Linked DNA regions of Homo sapiens: regions 1, 2, 3, 4 and 5 are each linked to region 6. Evidence: fine-mapped expression QTL. A gene starts in region 6. Each other region holds a variant in brackets. All regions are shown on one strand. Distances are from middle to middle.

The links.
Region 1: its variant is fine-mapped to the expression of KCNAB2 in whole blood (INTERVAL, PIP above 0.99).
Region 2: its variant is fine-mapped to the expression of KCNAB2 in whole blood (TOPMed, PIP above 0.99).
Region 3: its variant is fine-mapped to the expression of KCNAB2 in whole blood (TOPMed, PIP above 0.99).
Region 4: its variant is fine-mapped to the expression of KCNAB2 in whole blood (TOPMed, PIP above 0.99).
Region 5: its variant is fine-mapped to the expression of KCNAB2 in whole blood (TOPMed, PIP above 0.99).

The regions. Positions count from the first base shown.
Region 1 is chr1:6,115,128-6,120,199 of GRCh38, forward strand. The region is part of intron 33 of CHD5 (chromodomain helicase DNA binding protein 5); the gene reads right to left. Among named protein-coding and RNA genes, the nearest start is that of CHD5, 63 kb to the right of the region's middle. The variant T/C (reference allele first, on the strand shown) is at 2,439.
Region 2 is chr1:6,004,491-6,009,562 of GRCh38, forward strand. It overlaps a transcript of KCNAB2 not described here. Among named protein-coding and RNA genes, the nearest start is that of NPHP4, 15 kb to the left of the region's middle. RefSeq lists an enhancer at 4,120-4,712. The variant G/C (reference allele first, on the strand shown) is at 2,687.
Region 3 is chr1:6,017,945-6,023,016 of GRCh38, forward strand. It overlaps a transcript of KCNAB2 not described here. Among named protein-coding and RNA genes, the nearest start is that of KCNAB2, 25 kb to the right of the region's middle. The variant T/G (reference allele first, on the strand shown) is at 2,281.
Region 4 is chr1:5,995,159-6,000,230 of GRCh38, forward strand. It overlaps a transcript of KCNAB2 not described here. Among named protein-coding and RNA genes, the nearest start is that of NPHP4, 5.3 kb to the left of the region's middle. RefSeq lists enhancers at 4,113-4,827, 4,828-5,072. The variant C/T (reference allele first, on the strand shown) is at 2,469.
Region 5 is chr1:5,870,747-5,875,818 of GRCh38, forward strand. It overlaps NPHP4 (nephrocystin 4), which reads right to left. Exons shown (of 30, transcript NM_015102.5): 21 at 4,128-4,354; 22 at 3,725-3,911; 23 at 2,506-2,589. Among named protein-coding and RNA genes, the nearest start is that of MIR4689, 11 kb to the left of the region's middle. The variant A/T (reference allele first, on the strand shown) is at 1,979.
Region 6 is chr1:6,043,230-6,048,301 of GRCh38, forward strand. KCNAB2 (potassium voltage-gated channel subfamily A regulatory beta subunit 2) reads left to right here and starts at 2,659. Exons shown (of 16, transcript NM_001199862.2): 1 at 2,659-2,954.

The DNA.
Region 1 (5,072 bases), 72 kb after region 6:
CAGTGAAACCCTGTCTCTACTAAAAATACAAAAAATTAGCCAGACTTCGTTAGCCGGGCGTGGTGGCGGGTGCCTGTAGTCCCAGCTACTTGGGAGGCTGAGGTGGGAGAGAGACTCTGTCTCAAAAAAAAAAAAAAGAAAGGAAACACACAATCATTAACATTTTAATTGCAGAATTTAATTGCAGAATTCCAACATGGGCTCCAAGACTTCCGGCCCTTGGTGTCCACGCCCTGCAAGATCCCCTGGAAGGTGAAGAGGACAAACTCGACTCCCCAGAGCAGGTTCCGTTTTGCGGCACGGGTGACCTTAAAACAGGGAGATGACCTGAGTAGGCCTAACCTGACCACACGAGCCCTTTTCTCTGGCTGGTCACAGAAAAGGAAGTCAAGGATGCGAAGCACGGGAGGGTTTCTGTTCACCACTGCTGGCTTGAAGACACACGAGGCTACATGGCAGGAATGTGGTGGCTTCCAGGTGCTGAAAACGGACCCAGCTGACAGCCAGCAAGGAAATGGGACCTCAGTCCTCCAGCCTCAAGGAACTGAATTCTGCCAACAACAAGGAGTGAGCATGGATGTGGACTTTTCCCCAGGGCCTCCAGATGAGAACTCAACCCACTCGATACTTTGATGTCCTGAACCTTGTGATATCCTGAGCAGAACACCCAGCTACACCACGCCAGGCATCAGACCCACACAACTGTGAGCTCATGGTGAGTGCTGTTTTAAGCCACTAAGTTTGCAGTAATTTGTGACACAGCCATGCAAAATAATACAACTGGGAAGGTTTTAAAAAACAGCTGTGCAAAGAAAATATACATGGAAGCTGGATCTGAAGATTACTCAAAAAGCCTGGCAGAGAAATAGATAACAAAAAAGAAGCAAAAGATATGAAAACTTATCAGCCCCCATCTTTTGCTAACCTTGTACTCTGCTTTCTTCTTTAGAGCATTTGGAGTCTGTGGTTGAACAACACGTATTTCTGTTTATTGTGGATTGCCTGTGTTCCCCAGTGGAATACAAACTCCACGGAATGAAGCTTTCAGCTGTTTTGGTTCATTGCTTGTGTCCTCAGTGCCTGGGACAGCATCTGACACTCAGCAGGCTCAAAATATATATATATATGCATGTGTGTATATATATGTTTGTTGGATGAATGAACCAATCAATGAGTAATAGGAATTCCAGAAGGACAAAATAAACATAATGAGGGCAAAGAAAATATTCAAAGAGAGAATGACTGAGAATTTTCCCACAATTGATGCAGGACATAAATATTCAGCTTTAAGAATCACAGTGAGTCACACACAAGATAAACAAAAACTTCACTCTAAAAACAAAACAAAAAATACCCTCCATTGTAGTGAAGCTACATATCACCAAAGACAAAGAGAATGTCTTCAAAGCAGTCTTTCAATGTGAGAAAAGATAGAAATGACAAACTTCCTAGACAGGAGCAGCAATTACACCAACAGCAGCCTTCTCAGCTTCTCAGCAGCCTTCTCAGCATAATGAATGCCAAATAAAAAAAGGAAGAATATCTGCAAAGTGCTGAGGGAAGATCCCTATCCCATCTTCAATTGTACTAACTATTCAAGAGTAAAAGAAAAATAACAATGAGAGAATTTACCATTCCCAAAAAAATTGCTGAAAGCACCATTAAAGGTGTACTTTAGGAAGGACTTTGAATGAAGCAATGATGAACAAATAGGCAAACACAAACTGGTAAGAATGTGAGAAGATCTAAAAAAGGATTAAAAATTTAGAAATAAGCATAACAACAAATTTGGGAAAGTAAAAACAAACTGAAACTAAAATACTGGGCAACAGCATCGTGGCAGATGAAAGGGAAGTGAGTTAGAGCTAAAGCTATCTAAAGTCCTCATATTACTCAGGGGTATACATGTTAAAAATGTTAAGAGTACAGAATGAAATTGACTATAAACCTTCCAAATGAGTTGAGGGGGAAAAGAGGAGATATAAAGAAAATTTGATCAATCCAAGAGATGGCAGGAAAAGAGAAAAAAGGAGAAAAGAGAAGGGTAATATATAAAGTACAAAATAAGATAACAGAATTCCATCCACATATCTAGTTATTACAACAAATGTAAAGAGATTAAACTTGCCAGCTAAAAGATAGGGACCCTATAATTAGATTTTAAATGATGAATCCCCTATACACCGTCTACAAAAGATAGACCTAAAACATTACAAAGAGATTAAAAGTGAAGAAATGAAAGAAAATATTTGTAAATCATATATCTGATGAGGAACATGCATCTATATAAAGAACTCATACAAGCCAGGCACAGTGGTACACGCCTGTGATCCTAGCTACTCAAAAGTCTAATACTAGAGAATTACTTGGGCCCAGGACTTCAAAGCCCTCCTGGACAACATAGTAAGGCCCTGTCTCTAAAAGTATTGATTAATTAA[T/C]TTAAAAAGAACTCTTACAATTCAATAATTTAAAAAAATCCAATTTTAAAGTAGACAAAGGATCTGAAAGGACATTTCTTCAACAAATTATACACAAATAAGCCATAATCACATGAAAAAATATTCAACATCTTTATGCACAAAGTAAACTCAAATCAAAATGACAATGAGATACCACTTCTCACCCACTAGGGTGACTATAATCAAAAAGACAGATAATAACAGGTATTGGCAAGTATGTGAAGAAACTGGAACCCTCACACATGCTGGTAAGAATGTGAACTGATGCAATACACATGGAAAACAATTCAGCAGTTTCTCAAAATGGTACAGAGAATTACCATATGATCCAGCAGTTCTACTCCTAGATATATACCCAAAAGAACTGAAAACCTAGACTCACACAAAAAAATGTGTACACAAATGTGTACAGTAGCCAAAAAGTGGAAACAACTCAAATGTGTATCACTATGAATGGATAAACAAAACAAAACATAGTAGATCCATACAATGGAATATTATTTGGGCATAAAAAGAAATGAAGTACTGCCTGTAATCCCAGCACTTTGGGAGGTCAAGGTGGGAGGATTGCTTGAGTCCAGGGGTTCAAGACCAGCCTGGGCAACATGGCAAAACCCCGTCTCTACAAAGAATACAAAAATTAGCCGGGCGTGTTAGCATGTGCACCTGTAGTCCCAGCTACTTGGGAGGCTGAGGTGGAAAGATCGCTTGCACCCAGGGGGTCAAGGCTGTAGTTAAGCCAAGATCATGCCACTGCACTCCAGCCTGGGTGATAGAGCAAGACCCTGTCTCAAAAAAAAAAAAAAAAAAAAAGGAATGAAGTACTAATATATTCCACAACATAGATGAACTTTAAAAACACTATGCTAAGTGAAAGAAGACACACAAAGGGCCAAAGTACTGCATTATTCCATTGGTATGAAATGTTCAGAATAGGCCAGTCCATAGGACAGAAGTGATTGCCAGGGGCTGGGAGGAAGAGGAAGAAATGGGGAGTGATTACCAATGGGTAAGAAGAATTTATTTTTGAAGTGATTAAATGTTCTGGAATTAGATAATGGTGATGGTTGCACAACTCTGGATGTACTAAAAATAACAAATGGTATACTTCATTACTTTTTTTTTTTTGAGACAGAATTTCGATCTTGTTGCCCAGGCTGGAGTGCAGTGGTGCCATCTCGGCTCACTGCGACCTCTGCCTCCTAGGTTCAAGTGATTCTCCTGCCTCAGCCTCCTGAGTAGCTGGGATTACAGGTGCCCACCACCACGCCCAGCTGATTTTTGTATTTTTAGTAGAGACAGGGTTTCACCATGTCGGCCAGGCTGGTCTCAAACTCCTGACCTCAGGTGATCCACCCACCTCAGCCTCCCAGAGTTCTGGGATTACAGGTGTGAGCTACCATGCCCGACCTGAATGGTATACTTTAAATGGCTCAACTGTATGATATGTTAACTATATCACCATAAAGCTGTTATCTTAAAAAAAAAAAAAGGAATAGAAAAAGGCGTAACAAATATATACTAAACAAAAGAAAGAGCAACCCAAATCAGCAAAAATAAACTTTTTTTTTCTTTTTTGAGACGGAATCTCGCTCTGTCACCCAGGCTGGAGTGCAGTGGTGCGACCTCAGCCTCCCAAGTAGCTGGGACTACTGGCGCTCGCCACCATGCCCGGCTAACTTTTTTGTATTTTTAGTAGAGACGGGTTTCACCATGTTCGACAGGATAGTCTTGAACTCCTGACCTTGTGATCTGCCCACCTCGGCCTCCCAAAGTGCTGGGATTACTGGCATGAGCCACCGCACCTGGCCCAAAAATAAACTTTTAAGCAAAAACTTTAAAGAGGGATAAGAGGGTTATTACACAATAATTAGAAGCACACTTCACAAGAAAAATATTAAAAACCTGAACAAATATGCACCTGACAACCCAGTCTCAAATGATATGAAGCAAAATCTGGCATTATAAGAAAGAGATTAATCCATAATCATAATGAGAGATTTTAACACAAGTCTCTCAGAAACTGACTGATCAAAGCAAACCAAATACTAGTAAAGATATTAAAAACTTGAACAATATAATTAGCATGCATTATCTACTGACCTAATGCGCATATATATATACGTGTGTGTATATATACGTACATATATAGGTACATATGTACGTACATACGTGCGTACATACGTACATATGTGCGTATATACGTACGTATGTACGTACATATATACGTATATATATACGTGTATATGTATATATGTGTGTATTATATATATATATATTTTTTTTTTTTCTGAGATTGAGTCCCTCTCTGTTGCCCAGGCTGGAGTGCAGTGACACGATCTCCACTCACTGCAACCTCTGCCTCCCAGGTTCAAGCAATTCTCCTGCCTCAGTCTCCTGAGTAGCTGGGACTACAGGTGCATGCCACCACACCCAACTAATTTTTGTATTTTTAATAGAGACTGGGTTTCGCCATGTTGGCCAGGCTGGCCTTGAACTCCTGACCTCAGGTAATTCACCTGCCTCAGCCTCCCAAAGTGCTGGGATTACAGGTGTGAGCCACCATGCCCAGCCCTAATGCATATAGTTAGAACCTTAAACCCAGCAATTAGG
Region 2 (5,072 bases), 39 kb before region 6:
CCCTCTGGAGACCGAGGTAGCATGTGTTCCAGGCCTCGCTCCTGGTTCCTGGTGGCTGCCCGTAGTGTTCCTTGGCTTGTAGAAACACCCCCCCGAGATTCTGCCCCCATCGCCACATGGCCTTTTCTGTGTCTGTCTCCTCTTTTTATATGGACACTTGTCATTGGATTTAGGGCCCATCCTAATCCAGGATGGCCTCATCGCAGGATTTCCACCTTAATTACATCTGCAAAAACCCTTTTGCCAAATAATTCCACATCGACAGGTAACTGGGATTATGACTTGGGTGGATCTTTCAGGGAACACAGTCCACCCCACACAATAGGTTTCTACCCCCGAGTCCCACCTCCAGCCCCGTCTCCCTCCAGAGTCTGGCTGCTTCTTCCTCATCAGACAGTTCCTTCCCTCTGTAGGGATTGCATACAAGTGTTGCTGGCTGAGGGGTGAGGGTGGAGTGGGGGGATGTGGGAGCTGAGCTGAGGGATGAGGGTGCAGGCAGAGATCTGGGAGCTGAGCTAAGGGGTGAGGGTGGAGTAGGGGGACGCGGGGGCTGAGCTGAGGGGTGAGGGTAGAGTGGGGGACATGGAAGCTGAGCTGAGGGGTGAGGGTAGAGTGGGGGGATGTGGGAGCTGAGCTGAGGGGTGAGGGTGCAGTGGGGGGACGTGGGAGCTGAGCTGAGGGGTGAGGGTAGAGTGGGGGGATGTGGGAGCTGAGCTGAGGGGTGAGGGTGGAGTAGGGGGACGTGTGAGCTGAGCTGAGGGGTGGGGGTGGAGTTGGGGGATGTGGGATCTGAGCTGAGGGGTGAGGGTAGAGTGGGGGACATGGAAGCTGAGCTGAGGGGTGAGGGTAGAGTGGGGGGATGTGGGAGCTGAGCTGAGGAGTGAGGGTGAACTGGGGGATGTGGGAGCTGAGCTGAGGGGTGGGGGTGGAGTTGTGGGTTGTGTGAGCTGAGCTGAGGGGTGAGGGTGGAGGCGGGGACGTGGCAGCCCAGCTGAGGGCCTTGGAGCACACCTGGTAGGAAGCCAGCCTGTGGACCTGGAGCCGACTGAGGGTCCCCCCTACCCCCCATGAGTAGGAGTGGGATCCAACCTGGGTCCCCTCTCTCCCCTCCTGCTGGTGTATTTGTAGTTGGAAGGCAGCACACCCTCCTGGCTCAGAGAGATGGGTTTAGTGGCCCGGGGAGGCACGGAAGCCCAGGTCTGTCTTTTCCCAGCGGTCACTGTGAGGATGCAGGGCCCCCACGTGGGGAGACAGGGCACAGCCTCCCATTGGGGCAGATGGGGGTCTCCCTGCCCAGGATGCCGGCCGGAGTTTCCCCTGGCAGGGACCACGGGTGCTGTGACTGGAGGGAGGTCCCAGGGCTGGCACCCTGGGGCTCTGTTCTGATGTTCTGATCCATTCCACCCTCACCCCTCAGCTCAGCTCCCACATCCCCCCACTCCACCCTCACCCCTCAGCTCAGCTCCTACATTTCCCACTCCACCCTCACCCCTCAGCTCAGCTCCTACATTTCCCACTCCACCCTCACCCCTCAGCTCAGCTCCCACATCCCCCCACTCCACCCTCACCCCTCAGCTCAGCTCCTACATTTCCCACTCCACCCTCACCCCTCAGCTCAGCTCCCACGTCCCCCCACTCCACCCTCACCCCTCAGCTCAGCTCCCACATCCCCCCACTCCACCCTCACCCCTCAGCTCAGCTCCTACATTTCCCACTCCACCCTCACCCCTCAGCTCAGCTCCTACATTTCCCACTCCACCCTCACCCCTCAGCTCAGCTCCCACATCCCCCCACTCCACCCTCACCCCTCAGCTCAGCTCCTACATTTCCCACTCCACCCTCACCCCTCAGCTCAGCTCCCACGTCCCCCCACTCCACCCCCACCCCTCAGCTCAGCTCCCACATCCCCCCACTCCACCCTCACCCCTCAATTCAGCTCCTACATTTCCCACTCCACCCTCACCCCTCAGCTCAGCTCCCACGTCCCCCCACTGCACCCTCACCCCTCAGCCCCACTCCACTCCCACCCCTCAGCTCAGCTCCCACATCACCCACTCCTCCCCTACCCCTCAGCTCAGCTCCCACATCCCCCCACTTCACCCTCACCCCTCAGCTCAGCTCCCACATCCCCCCACTCCACCCTCACCCCTCAGCTCAGGTCCCACATCCCCCACTTCACCCTCCACCCCTCAGCTCAGCTCCCACATCCCCCACTTCACCCTCACTCCTCAGCTCAGCTCCCACATTCCCCTACTCCACCCTCACCCCTCAGTGCTCTGTCAGAAGCGCTACCTGACCACATCCCTCCTCTGGGCTCTGAGTTCCCCTGTGCAAGTGGAACCAATCTTTCCCCTCAACTTCTTCCAAGGGCCGTGATTGAAACCCACCTAAAATACAATGATAAGAGCTGTTGTCGAGGGATCAGACAGCAGCCTGTGTAAGATGAGCACTGGGTTCTGGGGAAGGACGGTAAACAGTTCGCCTTATTCTGTGCTGGGCACTGTGCTTAAGCCCAGCAGCGGGCCCTGGCTGGACTCAGTGTCCAGAGTGTCTCTGCTCAGGGCTGGCCGAGAGTCAGCGCTTTCTGTCCCTGTGGCGGACAGTCCGACCTCTCCGAGGCTGCCATAGAGACTCATATCAGCCAGGCGAGCTGGGAGCGCCACCACTCCCCAGATAGTTACTGCCC[G/C]GGCCTCCCTGCCCAGTCACTGCATGGGGGGGGCTCAGCTCCTGGGTGTGAGTTTGTGCCAGGCTCCAGAGAGGTGGGGACCCCAGCCACACCCAGGGACAGGGCCAAGTGGCCAAGAGACCACTTAAATGCCAGCGTGGCCACCCCATGTAAAGCAATGATCTCTCTGAAATTGCTCATCTGGTATACACCAGGACACTGGCCTCTTCTTCCTTCTCCCATCCTGGGATTTAAGAAGTTAAAACCCACCCCCTCTGCCCAGGAAGCCGAGGCAGCAGCTTGGAGCCAGAGCCGGAGGCAGAGCGGCTCCATCCGTGGGGAGCCGCGCCACCTCTGCGCCTCCTCCGCGCCTCCTCTGCGCCCCGCGCCGTGCTGAGTCAGGCTCTGAAACGCAGTCATCATCCGGAAGTGGTTCTTGCTGTGGCCCCATCCCCCTGTGTGATTTTCCTACCTTGGCTCACTTAAAATTTCAATCTGGCTCTGAGAGGAGACTCAGCATTTCCTTTATCTCCTTTTACTGTGGATGCTTGGAAAGGAGTGGGAGAAGCTGGGCGCCGCAGTGTGTGCGCGTCACTGTTGCCCTTACCCCCGAAGGAGGGGATGGCCAAGAGAACCTGGAACCTCCCCTCCCGTCCCTGTGCCCGCCGCTTCCCTTGGCCCTCACTGATGAGCCCAACAGATGCAGAGGCTCCTTCTCTCCCTGGCACTGCAGCCAGGTAGAGGCAGCTGCAGCCGCAGCCCTGAGAGGGGCTGGAGACGCTGAGGCAGGGGCAGTGGTGGGGTCTGGCTCCCCTCAGTTCAAAGTGGCCTGCAGATGCTGCCTGGAGCTGTCTGGTTTGACATGGCTCCCTCTGAGGGAGCTGATGAGTGAGGGCCAGGAGCACTACTTCATCAGGCATCCCCTCACCTGCACCAATGGGGAGGCGAACCTGGAGCTGGGCCATTAAGACCCACAGATTGTTTTCTCCATGTTGCGAAGGGCAGGGCTTGGATTTCACGAGGCAGATGGTGAGCCAAGTCCGGTTCCGCTGCGCTGGGTCCCCCATGGCAGAAAGGACCCGCCCCCCCATCACCCTGACAGTGGCTTGCATGCCCAAGAGCAGCCAGCATCCAGGACAGGCTTCCCTCGTTCCTCTGTTCATCCTCTTTAAGAATCACTCAGAGCCAGGCACGGTGGTTCACGCCTGTAATCCCAGCACTTTGGTAGGCCAAGGTGGGCGGATCACCTGAGGTCAGGAGTTCGAGACCAGCCTGGCCAACACGGTGAAACCCCGTCTCTACTAAAAATACAAAAATTACCCAGGCATGATGGCGTGCACCTGTAATCCCAGCTACTCGGGAGGCTGAAGCAAGAGAATTGCTTGAACCCGGGTGGCGTGGTGGAAGTTGCAATGAACCAAGATTGCACCGCTGCACTCCAGCCTGGAGACGGAGCGAGACTGTCTCAAAAAAAAAAAAAAAGGATCACTCAGGACACCAACATGGGCTGAGAAATGCTCCTGGTATCAACAGAACTGCAGCAGATGATGAAAACAAGGCTGTGATCAGGGAAGTGGCTGAGGGAGTGAGGCCCCCGAACCACCACCCCAGAGCTCTGTCCCAGGCCCCTGGGGTCTCATGCTGTGACCTCCTGCGCCACATGGGGAGAGGTCACCTGGGGGACTTGTTTCCGTGGGAACCTCAGGCCTTGGGCCTGAGTGAGGAGATGTCTGAAGCCTCTGGCCTGGGCGGAGAGTGAGACCCCAGAGCAGCCCTGCCCATTCCTCTGGGAGCAGCCTCAGTGAAAGCTGTAAAGCAGGGAAATTGGACACGTCCAGGCCAGAAAGAGCAAAGCAAAAGTGCCCCTGGGTGCACTGCACCCCACAGTCCAACCCTTCTCCCCCAGGAGCTGCAGGCCACGCTCTGAGCCTCTGTTTGAAGTGGTCCCTGACTGGACATTCTCATCTCGGGACATGAGCTAGGGTCACCCAGCACCACTATGCAGCTCTCCAAGTCCCCCTGGCCACCCCGCCCTCTGTAGGGGTGCTGGGCCTTGCTCTGCACCTATCCCTTGGAGTATCTGCTTTCCAGAGCGGCAGGAGGCCCGCCTGGTATGCCCATGGGGGCATCCACCTGTGCAGAGTGTGGCCTCTCCCCAGCAGATCGCTGGGTACATGAGCAGGCAGCAGACCATAAGCAGGCTGGCTAACGGGTGGAGGGGGCCCGGTGGTGTCCGTGTGCGTGTATGTGTGCACACGTGTGCATATGTGTATGCACACACCTGCACACACACCTTCAGATGCACGTCCCCTGTCTAGACCCCATCAAAGCCTCTTGCCAGGACTGGCCTGGAACACACTGTCCAGCCTGATTCTGTTCTCTCCCTGGCTTCTCTTGATCAACTTCC
Region 3 (5,072 bases), 25 kb before region 6:
CTCAGTTGCCTAGGCGGGAATGCAATAGTGTGATCATAGGCGACTGCAGCCTTGACCTGCCAGGCTCAAGCAGTCTTCCCACCTGAGCCTTGCAAGTAGTTGGTACTACAGGCACACACCTGTAATCCCATAGCTGTAAACCACACCCAACTAATTTTTTTTGTAATTTTGTAGAAAAGGTGTCTCACTGTGTTGCCCAGGCTGGTTTTGAACTCAGCTCAAGCAATCCTCCCACCACAGCCTCCCAATCCCAAAGTGCTGGGATTACAAGCATGAGCCACTGCGCCCAGCCAGGCAAATGTTTTCATAGAGGACCAGATAGTCGATGTTTTCAGCTTGCAGGAAATTCAGTCTCTATTGCAACTACTCAGGTCTGCCATAGTAGCGTGAAAGCAGCCCCGGGCAATATGTAAATAGGTGCTGTGTACTGAATGTTTCTGTCCCCCAAGATTGATAGCCCTAATCCTCAATGTGATGGTATTAAGAGGTGGGGCTCTGGGGGTGATAAGGTTTAGATAAGCTCAGGTCTTGCTCTGTTGCCCAGGCTGGAGTGCAGTGGAGTGATCATGGCTCACTGCAGCCTGGGCCTCCTGGGATCGCTCAAGCGATCCTCCAACCTCAGCATCCCAAGTAGCTGGGACCACAGGTATGCACCACGACGCCCAGCTAATTTTTTTTATTTTGGGATAGAGGCCTCACGACAGGACTAGTGCCTTGGTAAGAAGAGGAAAAGGCCAGAGCTCCCTCCCTACCCTGTGTGGACCCAGCAGGAAGGAATTCTGTCTGCAAGAGAGAGCCCTCACCTGGAACCAAATCAGCCAGGACCCTGATGTTGGATTTACCAGCCTCCAGCACCGTGAGACAGAAACGTCTGCTGTTTCAGCCACCCAGGTTGTGGTATTTCATTATGGCATTCCCAAGCTCACTAAGATAACAAGATAGCTTGGCTACCTGGCAATAAAACTTTATTTATGGATGCTGAGATTGGGAACTTTATATAAATTTTGTGTGTTATGAAATGTTATTCTTCTTTTGGTTTTCTTTCGTTTAAAACTGTAAAAATTGGACTGGGCACAGTGGTTCACACCTGTAAGCCCAGCACTATGGGAGGCTGAGGCAAGAGGACAGTGTAAGGCCAAGAGTCTGAGACCAGCCTGGGCAACATAACAAGATTCTGTCTCTATAAAAAATTATAAAATTAGCCGGGGGTGGTGGCACACACATGTAGTTCCAGCTACTTGGGAGGCTGAGGCAGACGGATCACTTGAGCCCAGGAGTTCAAGGCTGCAGTGAGCTGTGATCATGCCACTGTACTCCAGCCTGGGCAACAGAGTAAGTTCCCTTCTCCTAAAAAAAATTAAATGAAATAAATAAAACTGTAAAAACTGTTCTTAGCTCGAGGGCTGCACAAACACAGGTGACAGGCTGGCGCAGCAGTTTTCCAACCCCTGTCCTACAGCAAGGAGGGAAGCCGTCACACTGCACTCTCTGCTGGCCAGCCGGTGTGCAGTGTTGCTCAGGTTCTGGGTGCCTCTGTCATTTAGGAAGGAATCAGCACCATTAAAAGAGAGTGGCAGGGTGCTGATGTTCCAGAGAGAAACTGTGCCGAATGATGGCTAATTAAGGCTCTGGAGTTGGGCACTGGAGCACCGGACTCCCTGCTCTCCAAAGCCCAGCTTGCCAGCCTCGACCTGAGCGTCTTCACTGATACAGCACCAACCCGAGGCTGGCCTGTAAGGTTTGGCGAGGGTCCAGTGTCACAGCCCACGTGCAGCACGTGCTGCACAGTGTCGGCCAAAATTATATTCATGGCTTAAGTCAGAAACCTTGTGTGGAAGGAGGGAAAGAAGCAAGGTTTGCTCTCAAGAACAAAGGGCCCGGTTGTAGATGGGGTGAGCTATGGCAGGTGTCCTCAGATGCTCCAGGGATTGTCCTAGACAGAGGGACTCACTTCGTTGTCAATCTCCGGAGGGCGGAGCAGGCCCAGCAGGTGAAAGTTATGAGGAAGCTGGTTTCCAATCAGCATGCAAAGGACCATGTTGTCATTTCAGTTGTCCCCAGTGGGATGATCTGCCTAGAGTTTCCCACAGGTGGAGGTCTTGCGGAGGGGGGTCATGCATCCCCCGGAGCCCTGTACCTGGGGTCCCGTCTCTGCATGCTCGGAGGCTTCACGACATGTAAACCTAGTTATCTTGGTAACACTTGGGGGATGTGCCCCCTCCCCACAGTCCTGGCCCAGAGGAATGAAGTTACATCAAAGCAAATTGATTCGGTCGTTGA[T/G]CCTTATGTTGTAGAAATAGCTAGAAGCTATAAGGAGAACCACTGTGAGGTCCCCATTAAAGGAGAAGAATTTTGGTGGTCCCCAGACAGGGCTGGCTCGGGATCTCGTTCTGTGGTCAGGACCACCTGCTGCAGTACAGCCTCCCACCTCAGCCTCTCAGACTGCCACCTTCTGCCCCCAATCCAGCCTGAGATGCCCCCAGCACCACCCCTGCTGAAAACAGAAGCAGAACCTGATACTCAGCCTCTTCCATGACAAGAACACACCAGGATCGCGTCCCTTTCCAAGCAGAATTTTCCCGAAGCCCCACCCTCCTGGACTCGGGTTATGGACCGCCACAGGCCACCCCAGCTGGAAGAAAATTCAGGAAATATAGGGGTCATGGGTGACAGGTGGGCCAGCCAGCAACCGTATCTACCACATTTTTAAAATTTCTATTTTTATTATTTATTTATTTTTGAGACGGAGTCTCGCTCTGTCACCCAGGCTGGAGTGCAATAGTGCGATCTCGGCTCGCTGCAACCTCTGCCTCCTGGATTCAAGTGATTCTCTTGCTTCAGCCTCCTGAGTAGCTGGGATTACAAGTGCCCACCACCATGCCTGGCTAATTTTTGTGTAGAGATGGGGTTTCACCATGTTGGCCAGGCTGGTCTCGAACTCCTGACCTCAGGTGATCTGCCCGCCTCGGCCTCCCAAAGTGTTGGGATTACAGGCATGTAATCCCACCTGTAAACCTGTAAGGCCACCACACCCAGCCTAAAATTTTTATTTTCATATATATTTTTTGAGACAAAGTTTTGTTCTGTCACCCAGCTGAAGTACAGTGGCACAATCACAGCTCACTGCAGCCTCGACCTTCCAGGCTCAAGCCATCCTCCTGCCTCAGCCTCCCAAGTAGCCTGGACTGCAGGTGCACATCACCATGCCCAGCTAATTTTTTTATTTTATTTTTTGTAGAGACAGGGTTTCTCCATGTTGCCCAGGCTGGTCTTAAGTTCCTGGGCTCAAGCGATCCACCCACCACGGGCTCCCAAAGTGCTGAGATTACAGAGATTTCAGGCACGAGCCACCATGTGCCATGTTTATTGAGCCAGCTTAAATATTTGGCTTAAACACATACACCCAAATGTGGAGCTGCTGTTGACTCCATGATGCAGAAGTTTCTTTTTCTTTTTCTTTTTTCCCAGTTTTTTCTATTGTGGTAAAGGTACATATAAAATGTGCCATCTTAACCACTTTTAAGTGTACAGTTTAGTGGTATTAAGTATAAAATTCAATAGTATTAAGTGTATAGTTCAGTGGTATTAAGTGTACAGTTCAGTGGTATTGAGTATACAGTTCAGTGGTATTGAGGGTAAAGTGCAGTGGTATTGAGGGTATGGTTCAGTGGTATTGAGTATACAGTTCAGTGGTATTGAGTATACAGTTCAGTGGTATTGAGGGTAAAGTGCAGTGGTATTGAGGGTATGGTTCAGTGGTACTGAGTGTGTAGTTCAGTGGTATGAGTGTGTAGTTCGGTGGTATTGAGTGTACAGTTCAATGGTATTGAGTGTACAGTTCAGTGGTATTGAGTGTACAGTTCAGTGGTATTGAGGGTAAAGTGCAGTGGTATTGAGGGTAAAGTGCAGTGGTATTGAGGGTATGGTTCAGTGGTATTGAGTGTACAGTTCAGTGGTATTGAGGGTAAAGTGCAGTGGTATTGAGGGTAAAGTGCAGTAGCATTGAGGGTATGGTTCAGTGGTACTGAGTGTGTAGTTCAGTGGTACGAGTGTATAGTTCGGTGGTATTGAGTGTACAGTTCAGTGGTATTGAGGGCACAGTTCAGTGGTATTGAGTGTGTCATTCAGTGGCATTGAGTGTACAGTTCAGTGGTATTAGGTGTATAGTTCAGTGGTATCGAGTGTGTAGTTCAGTGGTATTGAGTGTACAGTTCAGTGGTATTGAGTGTCTAGTTCAGTGGTATTGAGTGCGTAAATTCAGTGGTATTGAGTGTACAGTTCAGTGGTATCCAGTGGGTAGTTCAGTGGTATTGAGTGTATAGTTCAGTGGTATTGAGTGTACAGTTCAGTGGTACTGAGTGTATGGCTCAGTGGTATTGAGTGTACAGTTCATTGGTATTGAGTGTACAGTTCGGTGGTATTAAGGATACAGCTAGTTGGTATTGAGGGTACAGCTCAGTGGTATTGAGTGTATAATTCAGTGGTATCGAGTGTGTAATTCAGTGGCATTGAGTGTACAGTTCAGTGGTATTGAGTGTGTAGTTCAGTGGTATTGAGTGTACAGTTCAGTGGTATTGAGTGTACAGTTCAGCGGTATTAAGTACATTCATAATATATGCACTACCATCACCACCATCCATCTCCAGAACCTTTTTATTCTCCCAAACTGAAATTCTGTCCCCATTAAACTGGAACTTCCCATTCCCCCTCCCCTGCCCCTGAGGGCCACCATTCTGCTTTCTGTCTCTAGGCACGTGACTACTCTAGGGACCTCAGATCATTGGAATTGTACAGTATTTGTCATTTTGTGACTGGCTTATTTCACCTAGCAGAATGTTCTCGAGACTCATCCGTGTTGTACCATATGTCAGCATTTCCTTCCTTTGTATGACTGAGGGATGTTCCCTTGCATGTGTGTGCCACATTTTGCTTATCTTTTTTTTTTTTTTTTTTTTTTTGAGACAGGGTCTCGCTGTCACCCAGGCTGGAGGGCAGTGGCGCGATCTTGGCTCACTGCAACCCCTGCCTCCTGGGTTCAAGTGATTCTCATGCCTCAGCCTCCTGAGCAGCTG
Region 4 (5,072 bases), 48 kb before region 6:
GGGGCGGCAATTCGAGAAGGATTGATGCCAGAGGTGTCTAGGGCCATAGACCCCATGTTCCCGCCAGTCCCCCTCCCACCACCAGGAGGACTTGGGTCTTGGCACCCAGCAGCCGGTCATCCTTGCTCTCAGAGGACTAAACGGAAGGACAGGCTTCTCCAGGGTCAACAGAGGCAGTGACGGAGCTGGGTTGGACCCCCTACTTCCTACTTATTTGAGCCCAGTTCATGCCTTGGCTGTCCGAGCTGGGGGAAGCCAGCACCCCGAGGACATGACCGGCTGTCCCTTCAGAAGGCCACTTGGAGGCATTGCTGACATTCATGGGCGCAGCCAGTGCCCTTGGGTGTGTCCAGGTCACTGGAGGGGCTTTTGGGACTGGGAGGTGCCACTACCATGGAGATTTCTCAGCGACTCAGTCCTGCCTGGCATGCAGGCCCTGGTGCAAGGGTACTGTTGTTCGTGGCCTTCAAAGAGATGGCCCCATAGTTAGAGAAGAGTGAGGGCACCAGGTCCGTGGTGGGATGAAGGAAAGGAGGGACCCTCCCCACACTGGAACTACACTCATGACCTCAGTTCGCCTCCGGCACTTGTAAACAACCCTGTGAGGGAGGCTGGATAGGGAAACTGAGGCACAGAGCAGCAGTGAAACTGATCCTGGCCTCCCAGCTAGTGAGGAAACCTTGATTCTGTTCCTGCCCTGCCAGAACTCTGTGAGAGGTGCCCCCTCCGCCATCACCTGAGCTCCATCGAATGCCTGAAATCCTCACCTCTGCAGGAGTGAGTCTCCCAAGAGGCCCTGGAGGCCCAGGCCCAGACCCTGGGGGATATGGAAGCACTCCTTTGTCGTGGCGTGGGAAGCCCCACACTGCTCTTTCCTTGGTGACGGGTGACCCGCCATGTTCAGGCCCCTCCTGGTCTATCTTCGGGTGAGTCTATTAAGGGATACACCATCTCCGCTCAGCCAGTCCCGAGGAGGCAAAGGGAACAGGACCCTCTTCCCCAGGAGAGAGCACACTGGGGGAGATGGGGTGGCACACCTGGGCTTCGTCCTGTCACTGCCCACTGGCTCGAGGCTTTCCTGCCTGCCTGGGCTTGGCAGATGCGTGAGACTCCCTGTCTCATGGGCCTGAGCAGATGCTGGGCCCTCTTGTCCTCTGCCACATCCTGGGGAACTCAGATGAAGGCCAGCCTCCCTCTTCCTGCACACCCACCATGGGATGAGCCCTGGGCTCAGGCCCCTCCCTGCCTGAGGGTGCCCTGCCACTGCCACACCCAGGTTTCCACTCAGACCCCTGCTGGCCAGCGTCTCAGGAGGCTACTCCCTGCTCTGCGCAGTGACCACATGGTTAGCCCCAGAGACCCAGGTTCTGCGTGTCTTCAGTGACAGAGCAACCCCATGCCCACCCTGCCGGCTTCCCCGGCACCTGTCTCCTTGCAGGCAGCCTCCTCCACTTCTCCAGCACACAGGTACCCACAGAGCTAACTGCTTTGACGCCATGCTGGTTGTAGACAAAACAGGATTGGGAAAAGGGGAAAAGTGGAGAAATGGTGGGGACCACCTTCCTGGCCGTCCGCCTTTACCTGGACCCAGTGAGAAGGCTTTCCTGGCTGTGATCTTGAGCCCTGACTGCCGAGCAGCCGAGATCTATCATCCAACTCCATGGCTGGGAGCTGGGCACAGGTTTCTTCTCAGACCCCGCACCAGATTCAACCCATTCCACGTGGGCCAGTTTTCTGGAGCAACTTCCTGGGTCCTGTAGACCCCTGAGGTCTGGTCCGCAGGGGTCCTGAGTCACCAGCCTGGGCTGTTTCCCTGCCAGAGACTTAGCTCTCTGAGTCTCTGGCTCTCTGGCCTGCTAAGCCACACGGATCATTCGTGTCTCCCTCTATCTGAATGGGTGAACTGGTGCCTCAATGGTAGGAGCCTGGGGCTTCCCTGGCACACAGTGGGTGCTGGATAACTGTCAGTTCCCCCTCTTCCAGTCGGACGAGGCGCCCCAGCCACCATCCTGCCTGGAGCTCAGGTGGTTCCTGGGCAGCCCAACGGAGCCCCCAGGAAAACCGGAGCAGAGGAACCTGGCTTTCCTTCTGCGTGGTTTCCTGGGACCTCTTGGCAGTCTCTCAGCTGGAGAGCCCTGCTGAGTGATTTCACAGTGGAGAAGGATGGAGGGAAGGAAGGGGAAGAGAGGGCAGGAGGGGAGAGCCCGTTGCCCTGGTCTGCAGGGAATAGCCTCCCTCTGAGGGAGGGACACTCCTTGCCCTATTCTCCCTGACCTTGGGCCTCGTGGAGGGCCTGCAAGCCTGCCAGACCCCCACTGCACACCTGCCCACCTGTCTGTCTGATTCCAGCAGCCCCTGGGCACCGAGTGGGTTGCAGAGCCATGCTCTGAGCATGCTCCCCCTCCTTCACCATGAATGTGTTTTCATTTTCCACCCCCGGGCAGCTTCATGATCTTTCATTGCAATCT[C/T]AGGCCCTGGTATCCACAGGCTCTCAATGCAGCCTAGGACAGAAGACTCTAGAATTCTGCCTCGGAGCCCTGTGATCCCAAACACTCAGCCGTGGCAGGGGCTCTCTGAAAGTGATATTCTTGCCACCCCTCCCAGATGCAGGAGGGTAAGGAATAACTAGAATGCATGGGCAAGGAGATTCAGCTCGATCTATTCATTATAAAACAAATTTAAATTTAAAACATTGCTTAAAACCTATACATGCCAGTGAAGGGCGAAGGTCTTAGCAGCAGACATTTGAAGGACCAAGAATGAGCAAGACCCACCTCCCTCCTCTAGGGCTGAGACCCAGGAAAGGGATGCAGTGACCACATGCCTGGAATGGTCAGAGAAAACCCTGCTGATAGGGAAGGAGAGACGGGGGCAGTGGGGACATTTGACCTGGACCTTGAAAGACAGGCAGGTTGTGATAGGCAGAGCTAGGAAAGGATGGTCTGGAAAAGGGCTCTGCATGGGCAAGGTCACAGAGGGAGGACCAGGCAGGCTGGATGATGGCCAGAGGCCCAGTGCGGTCACAGGCTAGGGCATGAATATGGGTGAATAGGATAACTAGGGGAGGGCATCAGGGCCAAGGCCACCATGGGCTGGACAGTGATGGGGAGGGAGGGAAGAGGAGAGCCCTGGAGCCCCCCAAGCTTTTCTGGCTGGGTCCACCTGGGCTGCACAGACTGAAAGAGGCAGAGCCAGAATCGGGGCCTCTGGATGGGGAGGACTGGGCTCGGTTGACCTTGGGTTTCGAGGTCTGTGTCTTGGACAGCAGTGCCCACTGACATTGAGAAGGTAGGGCTGGGGTTCACAGGAGAGGTGGGACCTGGAGGTGACTGCCACCTACCTACTGGTCACAGCCCTGACAGTGTCACCTGGGGGTAGTGCCAAGGGTCGCCAAGGGTACGGGTTTGAGAGGGAAGATGAAGGTCAAGACAGACAGTAGGGAACCCTGGATTCTTCCAGAGCCCGGGGAGGAGAGGAAAATAGAGGATGAGGCAGGTATCTGCTGCATCCGGTGGGCCAGCTGCTGCCAAGGAGGCAGCCTCTGTTGAGAGGGGAAGCAGAGCTGGGCTCCCAGGAGCAGCGAGGGGGCGCAGGACCCCAGATTCAGCACCACCAGCTTCCAAGCACTCGCCAACCAACTTATACCCATCTGACTGAGGCAGAAACACTGAAAGTCAAAGTGGCTTCCCTAAGGCCTCCAAGCTACTAGGCGCAGGAGCCAGGACCCCAAGCCAGAGTCCCACCCTGGTGACCTTTGGACTTTGCCGCCAATGGCTCTGGAGAGATTTGACCGTGAAAGGAGGAAAAGGAAGGTGAGGGCACAGGGTGGCTCCGGGGCTGGCGGGCGTAGACGAAGCCGCTTTGCTGCTTAACCGCAACTGCCAGCAGCACCCTCTTTCGTCCGCCCCTTTAGAGACGATTTCAACGGCGCATTCTTCCATTTCCTGCCTTAATGGGGGGCATTTCTGGGGACACCCGTGAACTGCGGGCTGGGGCTTAGCCTTGTTGGTTGCCCTGCATAGGTTGGCTGCGTAGTGCTTTACGTTCTGTGTAAGAATTGTGGAGTCTTGGGGCCTGGGTGGGCCGAGGGTCCTGAGATATCGGTGTGCCCAGCAGGCTTGTAGGGTGTGGCACCTGCCCAGCCCTCAGGGGTCCTGGTGCAGCTTAGCAAGCTCCTTGGCCACCAGTCCCTGGTGACTCAGATCAGGGGTTCCAAGAACATGCTTTGAGAAACACTCCCTAGCCCTAGCCGTTTCAGTCTGTCAGTGAACCTGCCCACCTCTACTTCTTAAGGAAGCACACGAGGAAGCTGTTTGTGATGGTTGAAAGCTCCGGCGAGAAGGGCTTTGCGGGGGTTTCTGTAATTCTTGGGAACATGTGAAGCCCACATTCTACTGGAATGACCTGCTGCACTTTTGTGAGCTTCAAATCTGAGATGTGCTTTCATCCTCCCGTGTGTGGCAGGGCGCCTTGTTAGTGTCCAGGCCTCTTGGAATGTGGTTTGGTTCAGGGGTACTGATGGCCCGAGTGCTTGCCCACGGCAGAGGAGGCCAGGGGTCAGTACAGGAGCCAGTCCTCGCCACCCTGTTCCTGACCATACAGAGTCTGTCACCTGCCTGTGCCCTGATTGTACCCCATCTGCACCGTGTCTGCACCCTGCCTGCGCCCTGTCTGTACCCCATGTGCGCCCCATCCGTACCCTGCCTGCGCCATCTGCGCCCTCTCCGCACCCTGTCTGTGTCGTCTGTGCCCTGTCTGTGCCCCGTCCGCATCCCGCCTGCGCCCTGTCTGTGCCCCGTCCGCACCCTGCCTGCACCCCATCCATATCCTGCTCTGCTGTCTGCACCCTCTCTGCACCCTGTCTGCGCCGTCCGTGCCCCGTCTGCACCTTGTCTGTGCCCCGTCCACACCCTGCCTGCACTCTGTCTGTGCCCCATCTGGGCCCTCTGCACGCCCTACCTGTGCCCTGTCTGTCTAGATAGATCCTGCAGCGCCTCCCGCCTCTGCTCAGCCAGCCCCCCGCACCCCCTAGAGGGTATTGCCTTTCCATGGAAATGAGTAGCAGGTATTTT
Region 5 (5,072 bases), 170 kb before region 6:
AAATGTCTGTGGAGGTCCTGCCCCAAGTGCATAACCTGGGTCTAACTGAAACGAACACCAGACCAGCCCCACTGGGCACGCCCTGCAGGATAACCGCCTGTGCACTTCACAACAGCTGCAGCCACGCCAGAAGGACTCCATGGGCAGCAGGCTGGTGGGGGCCACTGGACGGGCCATCTATCAAGTGCTGGGACATTTGTGAATGTGAATGGGGCCTGTGATGACAGAAGAGGAGCGTCAGTTCCCTAATTTTCATGGCTCTCCTTTGACCACAGAGGACAGTGGCCTTATTTTCAAGATAACCCAGCTCGAAGTGTCATGGAGTAAAGGGCATTACCTGATAATTTATTCTCAAATTGTTCAAGAAAAATGCACAAACAGAGAGTGGCGAGGCAAACATGGCAAAGGTTAGTGACCGGGAAGTCTGGGAAAACCCTATGTGGGGACTCTGCACTCTTCCTGTAACTCTTCCCTAAGTTCTAAATTATTTCAAAATAACTACTTGTTATTTAAAAAAGGCACAGGAGTTAACTTGAAAAGGATGGCGGTGGCCTGAGAGAGGGCAGTTCCAGCGTCTAAGAGCGGTGCCTCCATGGGATGAGAAATACAAATATAACGCCTCGGTGTCCATCATGAGACGCCGCAAACATGGACTGTCTCTGGAGGCTGCTAGGACGCAGCTCATTTATTTGAAAATTGATAAAGGGAATGATTCTAACATTCATCCTCACTTTCAAGTACAAAGTATATTTTAGGGTAACCAAACTGCTGATCGGGAAAGTCCTTGTTTGTAGAAAGATCACAGGAAGAATGACAGGACTGCAATTTCACCATTTTCCACCCTGGATGGAACACGCAGTGGGCCAGGAGCCTCAGCTGGATGCGAGTGAGGGAGACACGGGTGATGGCATCAGGCCATCAGCACCTGAGCACGGTGACAGCCAGCATGGCCTCTGTGGGTGGCCTTCATGGACAACGTGGTCTGCCCACTGAGCAACTCCAGAGGCGGAGCACCCCAGGACAGCGGGTCCTGATCCAAACGCACCAGTGGTAGAAAGGCCCGTGGTTACAGCCCCAGCAGACGATGCCGAGGTCTGCGTTGACTGGGGGCAGCAACAACAGCATGCAGTCATGATAAAAAGAAAAGTCCTTATCAGTCAGAGATACACACTGCAGTAATTATGGGTAAACTAACACAGTGTCTAGGATTTCCCTTCAAACTCCAAATTCATGTGAAGAGATCATATTTCTGACGTAAAGATTATTTTAAGGTGAAAAGAAATCTTACCTGAACTTTCCTTATCTGACTAGTGCACAGCCACCTGAAAGTGCAGCTGCCATTAAACCCCTATGTGAAAGTGTAAGTGAAAGCATCCTGCAAATTCCAGGAAGGTCACAGACTGGCCATGCTCACAGCATAAAGAGACAACAGAATGTCCCCGTCTTCCCACGGAGGCCCTGGCCCTCGCCCCCTTTGTGCTACATTGGCACAGAAACCTCGACCTCTGGGCATTTGGCAAGCTACTCACTTCCCAATGCTGCCACGGGCTCACAACGGTAAGGCCCGTCTTTGCTGCTGTCCCTCTGTCTACGGTCATCCACCTGCAGCCCTTACCATTCAGACCTGAGCTAGCAGAGGAAAACCTTCCTCCCAACGGTTTTGGCAACAGGACGCGATGGCTGGGACTTCCCACTCATGTAAGGAAAAAGCGTTAACCTAGAGCACTCAATAAAGATCAGATACATTCCTTAGATCAAGGCAAAGCTGTGGCTGCACACTTAAATAAAATAAAGCAAGTTTTCACTGGTGATGGGGCCCGGTGGACACAGAGGGCCAGGCTGCAACCACAGTGAGACCCGGGCCACGGGAACGCCACAGCCTCACAGGACTGCGCTGAACTCTGAATTCTGTCCTCCAGGCAATGTGTAAGAAAGACCAAAGCTTTTTAATTTTGTTTTTCACTTCCCAACTACTACA[A/T]AAGGCATGTTTCTACCGAATAAAAAACAACCTTCAGAAACTGCCATAAAGCAGCAGTGTCTCAAGCTCCTCCTGAGAATGTCTCAGCCAGCTGTTGAGAAGCAGGTGCCTTACTATACGGCCTTCGCTTAGCAAGGGACGTAACCAAGGACTACGTCTTATTTCCAGGAAGAACCACACCACACACTCACACACCAGGGAATGCTCTGCGTGAGGCTCAAGGAGTGGCCGCAGGCTGTGGCAGCCACCACGGGAACTGCGGCTTCACACCCGGAGAGCCCTGGGCTGTGAGAAGGCGGCCACCAAGGAGGCATTTCCGACCAGATACCATGCAGGCTGTGCCAGCGCCCAGACGGAGCTGCCCTGCCCAGCGAGGACACGGAAAAGGCCATTCCCAGGCCCACGCCACCCCTGCCCTGACCTGGCCCCAGCCCTCCCCTCCAGGAGGGGAGAGAAGGACACAAGGGTCAGGCCCTGGGAATACCCAGGAAGCCCCGAGATCAGTTTGTCCTCCGTTGCCCCTTTACCTTGGCGTGTTTAGTGGGCACTGCGCTGGACTTCCAAGGTGACACGGCGTCCATGCCCTTCTCGTTGCTCAACCCAGGAGAGGCCTGCAGGAACCGAACAGCACAAGCAGGTCAGGAAGCAACACCATTAGGCGACCAGCACCTGTGCTTAGAGACACCACTGCCACCCAGCTGGGAGCCACCAGCCTCCTCTCACACTGACTCTCCAGGCAGCAACCATCACCAACCGGCCTCACTGTGCCAGAGAAGGCTGAGGCTGCCAGGAACAAAGGGAACAGCAGATCCCAGGTGGAAACCCGGCTCTGCCTGAAGCCAAAGGCCTGAGGTCCCACCTGCAGTCCTCACAGCCCATCCCAAGAGCCAGCATGGCATCCTGTGAGTGAGCCTCTAGGGACATCTCAAGTCCACCTTAAGCGATGACCACCACCCTAGAGAGCTGACCCCAAAAGGTCAAAAGCTGAAACACACACTCCACACCCCATGCCGGCCTCACGCACCCGGGCATGACACACCCCCTGCAGGCACACCTCACACACCACCCCCTGCACACAAGTGCACACCTGCACACACACCTCACATACTCCCTGCACACACACAACTGCATGTCTGCACACACCTCACACACTCCCTGCACATCTCACAGACCCCTACACGCACAACTCCTGCACGCGTGCCTCACACACACCCTGCATACATGCCTCCTGCACACACACCTCACATATCGCCCCTGCACACACACCTCACATACATCCTGCACACATACCTCTTGCACATATACCTGCTGCACGCACGCTCCCTGCACACATGCTCCCTGCACGCATGCTCCCCGCACACATGCCTGCAAAGCTGCATCTTGCATAGAGCAGACAGTGCTGCAGTCGGAAGGGACCAAACAACATTAACTGGAAAGAAGATGCTAGAAAACGTCAATCCATTAGATTCACTGGGCTTTAAGAAGCCCTTCCAACCAACTTAGTAAAGAAAATTAGGAGGAGATGGTCCAGCTCGACACCCATCAGGCTGGAAAAGAGAAGGGGCTGGTTGCCACTTGCAGTGTACATGCCAGGGCTCTTGTTGAGCACCAAGGGGAGTGGGCGGCAGCCCCAAGGCTAGTCTGTCTGCACAGGTAAGGGAGGGACACTGGTGGAGACTGGAAGCATTCTCAATTTCCCACCGTCATCAGCCAAATGCAACTTCCCTGTGTGCCTGACACCCGCACCTGCACCATGGCCAGCTGCCCTGCAGAGAAGCTCTGGAACTTGAAGGGGACGTGGGCGGTCTCGTGGGGGCGCAGGTAGAGCTGGGGGGCCAGGCTGCCACGCAGGTGGAACATGTCCTCCTCCACCGGTGTGTGCAGGCCAGCAGCACCCTTGAAGTCCCTCCACTCCTGACTGTCCACGATGACGCTGGGGGAGGCAGTGTCCAGGCGTCAGGGCAGTTCTTCCCAGGAGGACCCACAGGAGGCTGCGGTCCCACCCACCGAGAGCGGTGCTCAGAGGAGTGGGAGAGAGAAGTCAAATCGCCCCGGCTCTCGGGCAGAATTCGAGCCAGCTCAGCAGGGGTGCCGGCTGCACCCGACACAGATCTGGGCTGGGGCAGGACGGGCACCACTGAGACCTCACCTGAGCTCGGGGTTGTCGATCTCCACAGTCACCGTGTGCTGTGTGTTGTGGGGGTTCTTAAGCACAAACTCAAAGAACTCGGCGACCCCCAGCGTGGCGTGGAGCGTGTGCTCCGTGGTGATGGCCAGGCTCAGCAGGCTGGCGATGCTCTCGGCCTTCGTGCGTTCCCGGTAGGCGGCGATGACCTGTAGGTCCCGCAAGTGCTGTGTGCGGACGCTCTGCTGCGCCTGCAGACAAGAGGACATGGGTGGACAGGGTCCCAGGCACACTCTCCTCCACAAGGGGCTATTGCTGGCTGCCCACCACCCGCGATCTCAGAAGAGGACATTTCTCCACAAGCATCGCCACCACCACCCCCTTCCTTGACCATGTGGTCTGGGTGGAACTGGCCGGCCCCGCCCAGGCATGGATCTCAGGCAGTGCTGGACAGAGATCTGCTGGCTGTGTCCCTGACACGGAGGTCCACACAGCATCCCTGCCTATTCCTGAGAGACTCTTCACAGACACGAGTCTGGCCCCCCGCACGGTGGAGAATCAGAAGTTTCAAACAAGAGAAAAGAATGGCCTCAAAACTATGGTGACAGGCCTCACCAGCCAGGTCCCCAACACAACTTTGGGAGCCCTGCCTGGGCCCAGCGTCCACAGGAGAGGACATGCCCCCGGCCTGCTGAGTCTCGGTCACACCGGGTCAGAGTCCAGGCAAGCAGCACGCTGCCTCAGCAAGGCTCAGCCACCCCCTTGCTCTGATGCCGCAGGGACTCAAGGGGCTTGGCCAGCACACATGGGTTCTACAGGTTGGAGACTGGCCTGTTTTTCCTGTGGGACTTACAAGAAAAAGTAAGGCCCACTAGAGGCTGCCTTGCAAGATCTCAGGCCTGGAAGGGGCCACCCCCATGCCGGGGAGTCAGCCAGCCTGCAGCTACTCCAAGAAGCCGCTGCGGCCGG
Region 6 (5,072 bases):
TGATGAGCAGGCAGGAAAATCCCAGGTGCAGACCTGCCAGCTCAAAAGGGCTGCCCACAGGTACAGACCATCCAGCTCCAAGGGCCTGCCCCTAGGAGGGGCCAAGTAAATTATCCAGTGACCAAGTGAGAGCCTTCCAGCCCACTCAAGGCCCTCAAAACCCCACAGGCTCAACATGTTGTCCCCCCCGCCGGGATCCCTGTGCTTAAGAACCTTCATTTCCAGGTGGCCTTCCTGGCCCCAAGGGAAGCTCTGAAGCTTACCCTCTAGGCTCTCAGCCCCAATTCTGGTGCCCACAGGCTCTGGCCATCCTACCCGTTGGATCTCCAGGGGGTCACTTGGGTGTCTCTTGTGGGGGCTCTGGAGATGACCTCTAAGGGCTAGGGTCTTTGTTTGTTAACAGGCTGGGGGCCACTCCTAGTAGGGCACCCTCATCACACCAAGCATACCACTAAACATGGCTATTGGATGGTTCTTTCAGTTACTTAGGCCTGGCCCTCTCACAGGGCAGAGGCGTTCAAGGCATGTGCCCTGCCCCCATGCAGCTCCCAGGCAAGGAATTGGCATAGGACACTGTGCCAATCAGCTGTCCACCAAGTGCTGCATAACAAACAACTCCAAAACTCAGTGCCACGCAGCAATCAGCATCTCTTCCTTGCTCCCGTGTCTGCGGGTTGACCAGGCAGCTCGTCTAAGCTGGCTTGGCTGGGTTTGTCTCCAAGCTGCAAGTTGGATCCCCATGTCCTCCATCTTCCCATGCTTAACTGGGGCCTACCCCAGGCATGTCCTTCCCATGGCAAAAGTACCAGAGGAAAAGCAGAAACATGCAGGGTCTCTTACGGCCTATGGTTGGGGTCAGAGCGCTGTCACCTCTGCTCACGTGCTTTTGGCCAAAGTAAGTCTCAGGAACCAGCCCACAGTCAAGGGGCTGGAAATATATTGCCCCCACCAGTGGGAGGAGCTATAAAGTCACATGGCAAAGGGCATGGGTACAGAGAGGGGTGAAGGATTGGGAGCAATACTTCCATGTACCCCAGGTCTCAAATAGCCCTGATGATCTCCAGAAGGCAGAGCACGTCACAGGAGAAGCCCAAAGAGCATTTGGGGTCCAAGGAAGGAGGGGCCACAGCCAGCTGAGAGCCAAGAAGACTTCACGGAGAAGGCAGCAGGGGCTTGGATCTGGTCCTTGAAGGCTGGGCAGGATTCAACGCAGAGGCTGGGAAGCATATTCCAGTAGATACAACAGCCTGAGCCACAGCTCAGAGGTGTGCACAGAGAACAGGAAGTGACAGTTACCCAGCCTGGGCCATCAGGGACATGATGGAGAATAAAGAGAGGCTGGCTGTAGAGGTGGATGTTGGTGGGGGGCCTCGAATGCCTAGCGATGGGGCACAGATGCACTCAGAGGGCACTGGGGAGCCATCTATGGTGTTTGAGCAGGGCAGGGGTCAGAGATCTGCTCTAGGAAGGAAGCCTGGTAGCAGGGAGTAAGACAGGGAAGAGAGAGGCTAATGCAAGGAGACCAGACAGTGCCCAGGAAAGGTGCAGGACGGCTGAGCTCCAGGAACTGCACAGAGAGAGAATGAAGGGGTGCAGGGCCTGAAAAAAGGACGTCAGAAGCCACGTCCACAGGGCTTGGCCACTGATGGGCAGGTGCTGAGACAGAAAGGGACAGAGAGGAGCAGTGGACCCAGGGAAGGAGAGGGCCTCATTCGGAGCATGTTAGGCTGCAGCTACCACCCAGTAGTGAGGCGCAGGCCCCCCGACCAGGGCGACATGTGGGGATCTGACAGAGTGGGCTTGGGCCTTTGGGGACAAACCATTTCAATTGCCAAGGCCTTCGCAGCTAGTCACCCGCAGCCAGGCACCTCCAGACTCTACGTGCTCTCCCAGCCTCCCACTTCATTTACCTTCCACACTGCGACTGGGGCACTGATTTCCTGTCCCCCACCTTCCCCCATGGCAGCTACCACTGTTTGCTCATTCATCATGGGGGGACGGTTCTGCCTCCATTCAAAATCCCACATTCACTGGCGCGCTTTCTCAGCCGGAAGATGATGTCACGCTGGGACTTTGCTGGCATCCTGTGACACGCAGTGACCCTGGGGGTCATGACCCTGGGGTTGGGGCTCAGCACTTAGCCTCATCCCAGAGCTCAGCCTTGTTTGGCCTAGTCTCAAAGCATTTCCCAAACCCCAGGTCAGGACATGTGCCGTGGAGAAGGGCTCCTGTGTCCCTGCCTGGAGTGAGTGGCAGTGTGGAGTCCAAATAGCAGGTTCTGGGGCCTTCCTGCCATTTATAGCTACCGGTAGTATCAGATATACCCATCTCGGGTGTATCCCCAGAGGACAGGAGGAGCATGCGCGTGTGCTGAGCAGAGGCCTCTCCAGACCCCCTTGGCTGTGGGTGGTGGCCCCATACGACGGGGCCCCCAGCTCCCCTGCTGCAGACACAGTTCAGAGTTGAGTGGTATGCGGAAGCCACAGGCTCTGTGTCCCGCACTCAGATACCAAAGAGCAAGGCCTGCCCCTTTCGACCTGTGGGTCCAAAGGTTTGTGTTTCTGGCACGCGGGGATGGTGGAGGCAGCAAGGGTAGGCCTGAGGGACGGGCAGGACCTCCCCCTCACCTTGGGCTGCACCCCAACCCCACGCACCGGGAGTCAGCCTTGCCAGGTTGCAGCACGGAACTGCACTTCCCGAGCTTTTAGGGGAAGAGGCACTCGTGAATAATTCAGCCTCTTTCACTGAGATGAAAACGCCCTAATAGAACTAATGGACTCGCTGCCTCAAAACTCGACTCTGGTGGGACTCATCTCATTCACCAATTGCTTCTGACGTCCTGCAGTGACACTCCCTAATGAAAAAGCCGCTGTGCCAGATCCTTAGAGTGTCTGGTGATCCCTAATAAACCAGACTGTGGCCTTTTTAACGAGCAGACGCCCCCACGAAGGCAGGTGAGTCCTCCCTTCAGCCGCTACCTTCCTAGTGGAGATGCCGCTTGGGGGCACGCATCCGCGGGAATGAAAAATAACAGAGGAGACCATATTTTGGGGTGGTTTTGTCTGATCCGGAATTAGACCCTCCGTGTTTTTGCAAAGCAGAAGACCTTAAAAAAGAGCCAGCCTGAGGTAAACTTGGAATGACCGTGATGGATGGGGTGGTGGGCGGCAGGTTTCAGCCGGGCAGCACCTCTCGCTTGAGTCTGCTCACAGCCCAGACCTGCCCAAGGCTGACTGTTTTCCCATCTGCCGGAGACACGGGCGTCTAGCTCGTACCTCGCTGTGTTCACCATTGATTAAGATTCAGCATTTTCCAGTTTTGCCCAGAGCGCTGTCAGGGAGGTTTGGTCTTGTCTGAAATGTCTGTGCAGGAAGCACGTGCTGAGGGAGCCAGGGGCTGCTTGTTTGGGCCTCAGTTTGCTGATTGTCCTTGAGCGAAAATCATTCTGTGTTTGCACTGAAGCAATGCCGTGTCTTGTAGAGCCGCACCCCGGAATGGTAGCAGCTCCCCTTCCATTTCCGCTTTGGAGAACTCTGGCTGGGCTCTCTGCTCTCTGGACAGGTGTCACCATTCAGAAGAGATGCTCAGGGTTCCTTCTCAATCTCAGGTTGTATGCTTTGTTGGCTTTCAGTAAACAGAACAATTCAGAAATTCCAGGTAGAGGAGTCTGGGGTGAGGTAGTGATTCCTACTGACTTAATGAGGTTAACATCTTCCTTGCATTTTTCCATGTCACGGTGTTAATTCACGTGAATTCCCCTGGGCCCCTGATCTACAGGAATAGATTTGCACCAGGCAGGCCCAGCCCAGGAAAGAACTTGTGGGTTCCACGTAATTAGCAATGGCTATTGAGGAGGGGCTCGTTTTTCTTGGTACCAGGGTGGTGAGGGAGTGTCAGGGCTCAGAGACCCTCACTCTGGAAAGCGGCCGGGATTTGGGATATTTTGAATTGGAAGTCAGGGGTCACTGTGCTCTTGAGCACAGGAGAAGTGGGGACCCTGAGGCAGGAGCCCGGCAGTGGGGCCACTCTCTCCTCCCTGCAGTGTCTTACCGGGGGGCCCTTCGTCCAAGGACCTGACGCTGCTAGAGTCTCGGCAAAAGCCCAGAATAGAGCCCCAGTGTGAGGGAGTCCAGAGGTGTCCTCTGTCCCCAGGCACCGCTGGTAACGGGCAGAGCCTCTTTGCCTTCTGCCTGTACCTATCCTTCTTCCCCTGGGGCAGCCCTCCCAGAGTCATGAGCCTTCAGGACCACAGGGAGCCCCCGCTGTACAGAGTCCTGGCATGGGAGTCCCCCCCACACAAGAGAGGGTGACCTGCAAAGAGCTGCTGGGTCTGAGGTAGGAAGCCAGCCCCGCCCCCACCAACAGCTGCCTGGCACTGCCAGGAAATGCCCAGGTATAGCCCTGGTTGGCCTTTTGGAGCCTGGGCCTTGGTTACTGTTCTACAAATATCTGAGCCCCTCCTCTGTGCACGGGACACTCCCGTGGGCACTGGTCAGGGGGCAGTGGCAGCAGGCAGAAGAGTCCTTGCCCTCCTGGACCCAACCTTCAGGGGAGTCCAGCGGCCATGGGCTCCTCATGGCACCAGCCCTGCTCCTCACCCCACCACCCCATGCCAAAGGCTGCCATTTCTGTGCCCGCAAGTTCCCTGGCCCAAGCCCTGCCCTGGCACCATGGGGACAAGCTCGTAGCAAGAGGCTCTGGGCTCCCTCCGTGCCGCAGGGCTCCCACCTGCAGGTCTGCTCCCAGGGCTGCAACATGAGCTCTAAGGAAAGATTGCAAGCGGGCCCCCACAGGGAGGGACGCCCTCTAAATCCTGGCCACAAAACCCATTCTGTCCTGCCCTCTCTCCCCTCTCCCACTCACATCCCCAAACTCAGCCTTCCACCATCTTGTTGTGAAGGGGGCGATTATTCACATCTGTGTTCTCTTCCCTTAAGCATTTTCTAGGGAGATTTGGTGTCTGTGTGGCTCACTCCTCTCACTCAAACCTGTGGTCACAAGTTCCTTCCCGCCCTGCCTGCTGGCCCCTGGTGGTGGATTTTTCTTTCCACAGCATTTATCATAATTGGTGT